2 separate regions of the Homo sapiens genome follow, and region 2 is reported to be linked to region 1. Evidence: microRNA targets listed by miRTarBase, many of them from high-throughput screens and not tested one by one. Region 1 holds a microRNA gene; the other region holds the end of a gene's coding sequence.
What was found. Region 1 holds the annotated microRNA hsa-miR-218-2-3p (CAUGGUUCUGUCAAGCACCGCG, at 1,975-1,996, opposite strand). A microRNA usually pairs through its seed, bases 2 to 8, with sites in the 3' UTR of a target mRNA and lowers its output. Matches are read on the target gene's strand: a 7mer-m8 pairs with bases 2 to 8, a 7mer-A1 pairs with bases 2 to 7 and ends in A, and an 8mer does both.

Region 1 (4,560 bases):
TTGTTATCTGATCATCATGGACTTGCTAACTCATGTTTCCAGAGCTCTCCTCCCCTATTCCCAATATCCCTAAGATGAGTGGAATAAAAGAAAGGAGGAAAGAAGCAGAAAGAGGAATTGGGGGGAGCGTAAGTCCTGTCAGGCCTCATCAGCTTGAAAAGACAGTGATGTGAATAAGCAAAGGGTCATAAGTGATGAATGACTAAGGAGAACACTGCCAGGCACACAGACATCCACTCATGGGCAAGGCTGGGGGACCAGCTGCCAGTGGCTGGAAGATGCCAACTGTTTTACTAGGAGTTTGGTCACCAGTTGGGCAGGGAGCCGTCCTAGTAAGCTATCCCCTTTGGAGTCTATTATGAGTGCAGCCATCTGCCTGAAAACAGAGGGAAATACCCATGGTCTGAGGCTGGCACTGCCTCATCACAGCCTGTGGCTGCGGGGCCAGTAAAGCACTGATGGAAGGGCACCATTATGGACCCACTCCCAGAGGCCTGGTCCCTGCCATGTTAGGGGCAGTGCCGAGGGCCTCAGAATGCCCCTCTCTGTAAGGTGGGAAAGGGAACTTCTCCAGGCTCGAGGATTTGCTCTGTGTTAAATGGGATCTTTGTATGTCCATGCTGGAGAGGAACAGCCATTTGAATAATGCTTTCTCTCTTACTCAAGTTCTTTCTACTAACAGATGAAAGTCTGAAAGGGAGAGTTTAAGCAAATTTCAAGTCCCTATCAAATCACAGTTTTTAAATGTTCTAATTCAAGGCAATGGGGTTGTCCACAGCTGGGAAGGTGGGTATTACAGCAGTACAGTGCAGCCATTCTGGAATCAGATGACCCTGGGTAAGTTAGCTAACCTCTCTGAGCCTCAATATCCTCATCTGTAAAGTGGGACTTTAGATTTTGTGAACATTAAACAAGGTAATGATGTGAAAACAGTTCACTGCCTGGCCTATAGCAAGCACTCAATGTATGTTAAAAAACTACTAAGCAATGGTTGGGCTCCTGGTTCTGAGGGGTAACCTCAGATAGACGAGGTAATAAGAGTCACACCTCATGATGGGGGCCCAGGGCTCAGCTTCTAGTTCTGAGCTAGGCTAAAGTTCCCACCTTAGCTCTCTCTTGCAGAATAGGACAAAGACTCCAGGACAGGAATGAACAACACAGTCTTCTGGTTACACTGGGTCTAGGATTTATCAAGGAACAAGCAAAATAAGAGGTACCAAGATCCCTCTCTTTATTATCAGAGATAGCAGGTTTCCACGTCCACACACACTCCCCTCCCCTGAAACAGAATTAGCACCAGGTGAGGAGCCCAGCACCTCCACGTTAACTGTGCTTTGCAGGTCAAGGAAACAGACTGGACTTTAGGTTTCATGGGGTTCAGGGACTGTGTTTTCATAAAGTATGGGAATGAGGTTCAGAAGGAACCTTGGGTTAAACCCAAAGTCTCAGACTCACATGAGTTTCACCCATTCTCATGCTGACGTTCATTTCAAATAAAGTGAATACCAATAAAGGTGGTGGTGGGAGGGGTCGGGGGTCACAAGCAGTAGGAATTCCCCTTTGGGTTAGCTGCCACTTGGAAAAATGACCTTGGGTTGGGACTCTCCCATGAAACCATGGGGCGTATGCCTTGGGTATACTTGTTCCCTTCCAGTGGAAGAAGAGACACAGTAGTTTCTGAGCTTGAACCTAGTTATTACTCCTTGTCTGACATCCAGACTAGATTTGGGGGAGGGTGACTCCATTTTGGGAAAGAGATGTGGATACAGATCTCTTTCCCCAGGGTGCTTCTCCAGACCCATTTCCCTCTGTATCTGCATCCTTTGAGACTCCTACCCTCCTGCCTTTGGTGAGTTGAGACTGGGAGAGGTGGGTCTGGCAGGTGGTGGGCTGCGGTGCTCCAGAGCAGAGGAGAGGTGTCCAGCGGTGGTGGCGGCGGTGGCGGGCCATGCTGCAGGAGAGCACGGTGCTTTCCGCGGTGCTTGACAGAACCATGTTCCGTTTCCATCGTTCCACCACATGGTTAGATCAAGCACAAAGGAAAGCCCCGCAGCGACTGGTCAGAGTCAAGGTCAGGAAGCAGCGTCAGAGAGAGGACAGGAGCGCTCAGAGGAAGCAGCGTGGAGAAGCGGAAGCCGGAGCAGGCCCCCACTGAGCGTGATTAGTATCAGGAGTGGGGTTCCACTGGAACACTTCCGAAGATTGCAGCCCTGCTGCCCTTGTGCCCCACCCCAGGGAGACACAGTAGGAAGGGAGAAGAACGGGAGGGAAATCACTGGATGCCCATACTCGGGAGCTTCAGGACAGCATGGTTCCTTCCCAAGGAAAGAAAGAACACTCAGACATCTGTGATCCTATCACATGCCTGAATTGAGCCTCTAAACTCCATTCAGTCACACCAGTTGGTCTGACAAGACATTAAACTTAGAAAAGCATCTTCTGCATGCTTTGCAACATAGGCCCAATCCCCCCAACAGCTGAGTGGTTCCATCACAGTCATTCCTCTAGCCCCTTAAGTCAAGAGACAATCCACAGTTCCCAGTGGTCTAGCAAACCTTCAATGCTGTTCTTTAGGAAAAAGCCCCCTTTGACATTCCACAATTCAGGAGTCTCCTTTATATCCTTTGAGGTCAGCAGGAATGCTCTGGCTGATAGACACTCATCCCAGATCATTTGAGGTTTAATAGAGGAGCAGTGGGGTGTCAAAAGAAAATATATCTCTCTAGCCAGAGAGAAAGACAGGAAAACAAATGGGGCCGTAGGGTTTGGACTGAGGAACCTGCAATCATAGTTGTTGTTTGAGAACACTGACTTTCACAGAGATGGTGGCCAGTGCGCCTCCTGATGAAGGGCCTCTTTGAGACTAAGAGAAGGAAGGAAAGGGAAGCCAAGTGATGAGTCTGAGGGGAAGACACTGAATTCTGGGGTCCTTCTTGATTTCTTGTTCTCTTCCTTAGCTGGAAATTATGGGAGCGAACAGGATGAACCAATAACCACTGTCAGGATGCCAAAGGCCCAGGTGAGGGTACCCAGTTTTTATATTCCTCTCTGTGATAGATCAGGGTCAGTTTCCATGAACCTGCTGACTTGGGACTTCCTCCCACTTGGCATTAGGCTGGAGATGTGCATCTTGAAGAAACTGGAGCTAAGGCTAAGTGACTGAGACCCTCCCTGCCTGACCTCTGACATGAGAACCAGTATCAACATTCTTCCACTATGTGTTTTTGGGACTGGGCATATCCTCTAGATGGTCTCAGCATCTCAACGGTGCATAGGTTGTCTGCCATGTTGGACCAGTTAGGAAGAGCCAGCCCACAGCTCTGGGTCTGTCTGGCCTCTCCTCCTTCCTAAGGTCTCTCATCACACGCACTAGAGTCAGCCACTAGAATCTGGACTCCACTCTGCTTTGACACCTATGCAGGGCTCTGTGAACACTGTGGTTCTGGGACTTCAAATGTGAGTTTGATTAGGACCCTGGTACAAGAGCAGGGGAAATCCATCCTGTTCGTGCAAACCGCCACCCTCACCAAGCCTTAAAATCTAATTTTCTTTCTCTTTGGTTTCTTCCTACAAAAAGAAATGGAGGGATTTGTAGGTAAATTATCAAGAGTCTTCACAGTATGTCAGAAGTCCTGGGTTTCAGATCTTGCCCTAAAAATAATACTCAATACCTTAGATAAGATTTTTCTGCTGTGTGGACCTCAATTTATCCATCTCTAGAATAAACTGGATGACCTCTAAGGTTTCTAAAAGTTCTGTAATTCCTTGAGAGCTATCTTGCTGTTCGCCGTCTTTGGACACTTTGCGTCACCACCCTCTGTACTTTTCAGCAAGAGAGTTTCTTCTCACACAAAGCGGGGAGGCATGAAGGAAGACAGACAGCACCCTGCAACTGCCAAGTGCTCCCAGGGATGGGCTTGGGGTCCCAGGCAGCCAGACGGAGCCTTTTCAGGAGGACTTAATCTGATGGTCAGATTACCCCAGCCGGCAGCATCCAACCCTAAACTGATCTTGCTGCCCAAGGCGGCGGATGCAGCTGATAGAGAGAGGCAGACACAGGCAGCTGGGAAACCAGACGCCCTGCCTAAGGAGGGGCAGGATGTGTTACGGAGCAGCCCTCAAATTGCCTCCTAATTACATCAGCTGTCTTTTCAATGGGGGTGCTTTTAGGAAAAAGTAAAACGCAGAGTTATTATCTGTCACATCCAGTCTGTGTCACCTGCCCCCCTTCTTTCTTCTGGAGCTTCCTGGAAACACAGAGCTTTACATCTATGGTTTTTCTTTCCCTCCAAGGCCAAGGCAGGTCTGGAACCCCATGTTTCTCAAAGCCAAGGCCTTTGGAGCTCAGCAGTCATGCTTTCTTTGCAATGACATAAAATAAAAGCAAATAGAGTGCTACGTGTCAGTCTCATGCTAGCTCCAAACATCTCTACTTTTTAGGAATAATCTTTCGCTTAGCATTGTTTTTTTTTTTAAAAAAGGTATCTTAGAGTCAATCCAAGAACCTGGCTCCTTCTCCCTGTTTCTTTTTTAAAATGTTCAGCTTCCCCTCCCCCACAT
Region 2 (4,000 bases), not on the chromosome of region 1:
ACTGCATATAATTAAGCTCCCAAGCAGGTTTAAGATTTGGGAGATGTGCAAATACAGATCACCATGTGTTCATTCACTATTTGGTAGTCCCTCAGAATGGATTTCAGTGACTCTGTGTTTTAAGAACTCTTAAAATTCTCCTCCCGTTTTTTTGGCAGAGAGCCAATGAAACATTACGGTATTAGTTCATTTTCTTCTTGCTTGTCTTGCAGTAGTTTATAATGCACTGTGTTATTGAAGAACAAATGTATGAACATATCTTGGAAATAATATTTGTCAAGCATTAACTCAAAGATCTTTACTACCTTTACAGAAAAAAAAAATAGCTCTTTTCTTTTTCCTTTTGCAGGAGAAAAACCCTACAAATGTACATGGGAAGGGTGCACATGGAAGTTTGCTCGGTCTGATGAACTAACAAGACATTTCCGAAAACATACTGGAATCAAACCTTTCCAGTGCCCGGACTGTGACCGCAGCTTCTCCCGTTCTGACCATCTTGCCCTCCATAGGAAACGCCACATGCTAGTCTGATTGCCTCTGTGTCCTGCCTCAGCGTGACTCCCCACTCACCTGGCTCTCTCTCTGTCCTGCCTCCCATTATCTAACACATTTTTTACATGTACATTTTAATTTGATTCAGCTGGTCTGAATCTCTGAATTTATATCATCCAAAACTTCCATATGGTCAGTAGTAGATGTTCTCTAATCCTCCCTCTCCTTACCACGGGTCAGACCTAAAGAATGTGAACACTTTTTTTTTTTTTTCTGGGGATGCTAAGCAAACCCTTCTTACAGATACGTTTAATGTAATAAGAACAAGGGAACATGTAAACTAACATAACCAATTGTCAGTTCTCCATGTATTCCTCAAAAGAATGTCAGAGTAAATGTATTAGAAATACAGTATCCAGACTGCTAGTCCTTGCCAGAGACATTCTTACCTCTGCCCTGTGATAATATTTTATGCTTGACAGTGAAAACAAGTGTGGCCCCTTGCACCGGTTAGCTAGAAGTACAGCCAGATTTCAAGCTAGTGCAGTCACCTCTTCCGTCATTCTTCACAAATCTTGTCAACCTGGATCTTAGACTTCATCTGAATCGAGTTCTTTGCCCTCCTTTGTGCCTGCAGCTCATATGGAGGTCTTTGCCACCAATGGGAGATGAGCCCAAACTTTCGATCTAGGTGGGTGATGTGTAGCAGTTCAAGGGAAGGGTGCTGTGTTTTCATAGCATGGAGTCGGAGGAGAGGGCCATTTAGCAGGGGGAGCAGAAGAGGCAATTCCTCCTGGGCTAGGGGTTGTCAGTGAGGTTTCAACATTTTGTTAGCTGTGTGCAGCATTCCCAGAGCTTCAGTCTCTGTGCATACTCAGCTTTGTAGAACCATGCTGCAAAGCCATATACCGATGGGGTTATCCATGCAACTATCTCCATTCCTACAATGTCCTTAATATGAGATCATCAAACATTGATAGTAGGGACTCCATGGAATATTTGCCCAGTAATGGTAAGAAATCTTTCGGGTAAGAGTATGGATGGTTCTTCTTTTACCCAATCTGCTTATAGCTTTTTTTGTAAACAGGGAAATGTTGAGTGGTACTTGTATTCCCTTATCAAATTAATCACATAGCTTTTATACAGAAACTCTTCCTGTGTGAGCTGTTAAGGTGCCAAATTGGCTGTCATTTGTATTCATGACACATACCATAAAGCATCTGCTAATGCTTTAATGGATTGATTCAATTAAGACCTGAGTGACACTATTTGTAAATATAACTAGTTGTGAAGCACACATACCTTTATTTTGGGAATTTATGAGAAAATATAGAAAACCACAGATCAGGGATTCATATATGTAGCTCAAAAATTCCCAAAAGTTTACTGTTAGAGTTGGCAATTTCCTATCACTATTTCAGTGTCAGAACAAACTGAAAATAATGGCTCGTGTTTATGTTGAAGATAAATAGCACCATTATTGGGGGAAGTTATTCAAAAGCAGGCTTTTGAGCACCATAGTCTAAATGCCAATAAAAATAATTCATACATAGAAATGTCATTGGTCCTGAATTTGAAGAAAGTGAGCAACAGTAGTTAAATGTGGGTGCATATAACCAAATTCCCCTTCATCAAGAATGGAGGAGAAGAGAGAAGAATGAAATCCTGAAGATTCATCCCAGCCGCAACTCAGGATCCAACACAACTTTAACTGGGAGGAATACATTGTTTGATCATTTTTAAAACATCTGTGAATGAGTGATTCCGGAGGCCTGTGAATTGTGTGGGGAGCTTGCTTTGATGGCACTGTGTTAATAAAAGTTGTAGGGACTGTGCACCTAAGAGGCTAAGAGGTCCCACTCATCCGCCCTGTGAACCAGCTGTAAAGAAATGTAGTTAAGAAATGCAAAGAAATGTGTTATCTTGGCACTTGGGTTTGATTTTCCTTTTTTTAAAGCACTGCAAAACTTCTTTAGGATACTAAAACATCCTAATTGGGCTGTTTTTTTGTTTTGTTTTGTTTTTCAGCTAAAGGCAAAGATAATTTTTTTTTCAGCTGAAGTTTTTCTTTTTTGCAACTATGACATGAATTGAGTGATAAAATGGCTCTTTGAAAAGTAGATATTGTCTGTATTGTAAATGCTTAGTCATATTCATGGCAAAGTGTTCATTTCTTGAGATGGTTCTTTCACAACACACAAGAATCAAGATGGAACGCAAGGAAAATCTTTTTGTTTTGACCGAGGTAACCAGTTTATGTGTGTTCCAATCCATAGAGAAGTGGGGGAAAGGGCGAGAAAGGATCAGATTGATCTGGGATCAGCTTTGAGCCTGAGTTCAGTGAATAGCCTCATGGGCATCTCATGGAATTGATGCATTTGCTGTGGCATATTTAAATTTTGTTCAAAAGATTTGAAGCAAGACCTTGCAAAGACTCTTAACATTACTGTTCAGCTTGCTTAGATTGTGTTAACAGTTCATTTAACAAAGATCCGTTTTAACTCTGAACAAAAGCAACCCAGAGCGGCCATTCTCTATTCCCATGCTGGTCAATACGCTTTCATTACCAATTGGCCCTTACCAAACTTTTCTTATATATATATTTGTATTTTACTATGATAGTTGAGAAATTTAGCCTCTTAGTCATTTTTAGCTGTTATTGTGGAAGACCTCAAATACAAGATTAGATGCCCTTGAACATGTTTTAATGATGTGTGTCATGTTACTATCAATGGTGATTTCAATCGCAATATTTTAAATTGATGAGAATGATTTGTAAACATGAAGTTACTATTACGTAAATTCTGTTTGTTATAGAGTTTCTTCAGTTGTTACCCAAGTGTCATCCTAGAGAAGTCAGAAGAATCAGAATCCATCGTATTTTAGAGTTATGTGAATCTACATCATAAATGGGCATTAACATTCTAAATTGCTTGGTTTGGAGAATGTGTTAGCAGCATAGCTATATTCAACTAGGGAGATGCTAAATACACAGAAGTTTCAAGAGCCTTGGAACAGAATTACAGGGGAACTATATATGTATATGTATATTTTATTAAACACCCATCTGCACTATCAGTATTGCACTAATGTGGAATTTGAAAGACTATTTTGCTGATACTGTATATATGCGCATCATTCCTGATTAGATTGTTGTAAAGACAATCTGAAAGATCTAAGGTTTTAAAATAATTTGGTTTGAAAATATACAGTTGTCTTGAAGGAATTGCTGTCATACATGAAGTTGCTCCGAGCTGTCTTTATTCTCTTCTTGGTCAAGGTTAACAATTGCTAAATGATCGCAAATTCACCTAAACAATACATTTACAAAGCCATCTTTACATGCATTAAACGAGGGCTACAACAATATTGTTTTACAAATACTAGCACTTTTTTTTCTGTTATGTACTTAGTGTTAGAGGGTCAAAATAATCTTTCTGCTTAGCATCTCTTAAACCATACCTGCAAATATAGCAGGATTATTACATTTACAGTACTTTAATACTTG

Region 2: miRTarBase lists KLF3 as a target of hsa-miR-218-2-3p. Seed matches in the 3' UTR shown: 7mer-m8 at 1,378-1,384 and 7mer-A1 at 3,947-3,953.

Annotation. Positions count from the first base shown.
Region 1 is chr5:168,766,194-168,770,753 of GRCh38, forward strand. MIR218-2 (microRNA 218-2) reads right to left here and starts at 2,062; the gene lies at 1,953-2,062. All of the region lies in intron 14 of SLIT3 (slit guidance ligand 3), which reads right to left.
Region 2 is chr4:38,696,733-38,700,732 of GRCh38, forward strand. It overlaps KLF3 (KLF transcription factor 3), which reads left to right. Exons shown (of 6, transcript NM_016531.6): 6 at 350-4,000. The coding sequence ends at 531. Among named protein-coding and RNA genes, the nearest start is that of KLF3-AS1, 34 kb to the left of the region's middle.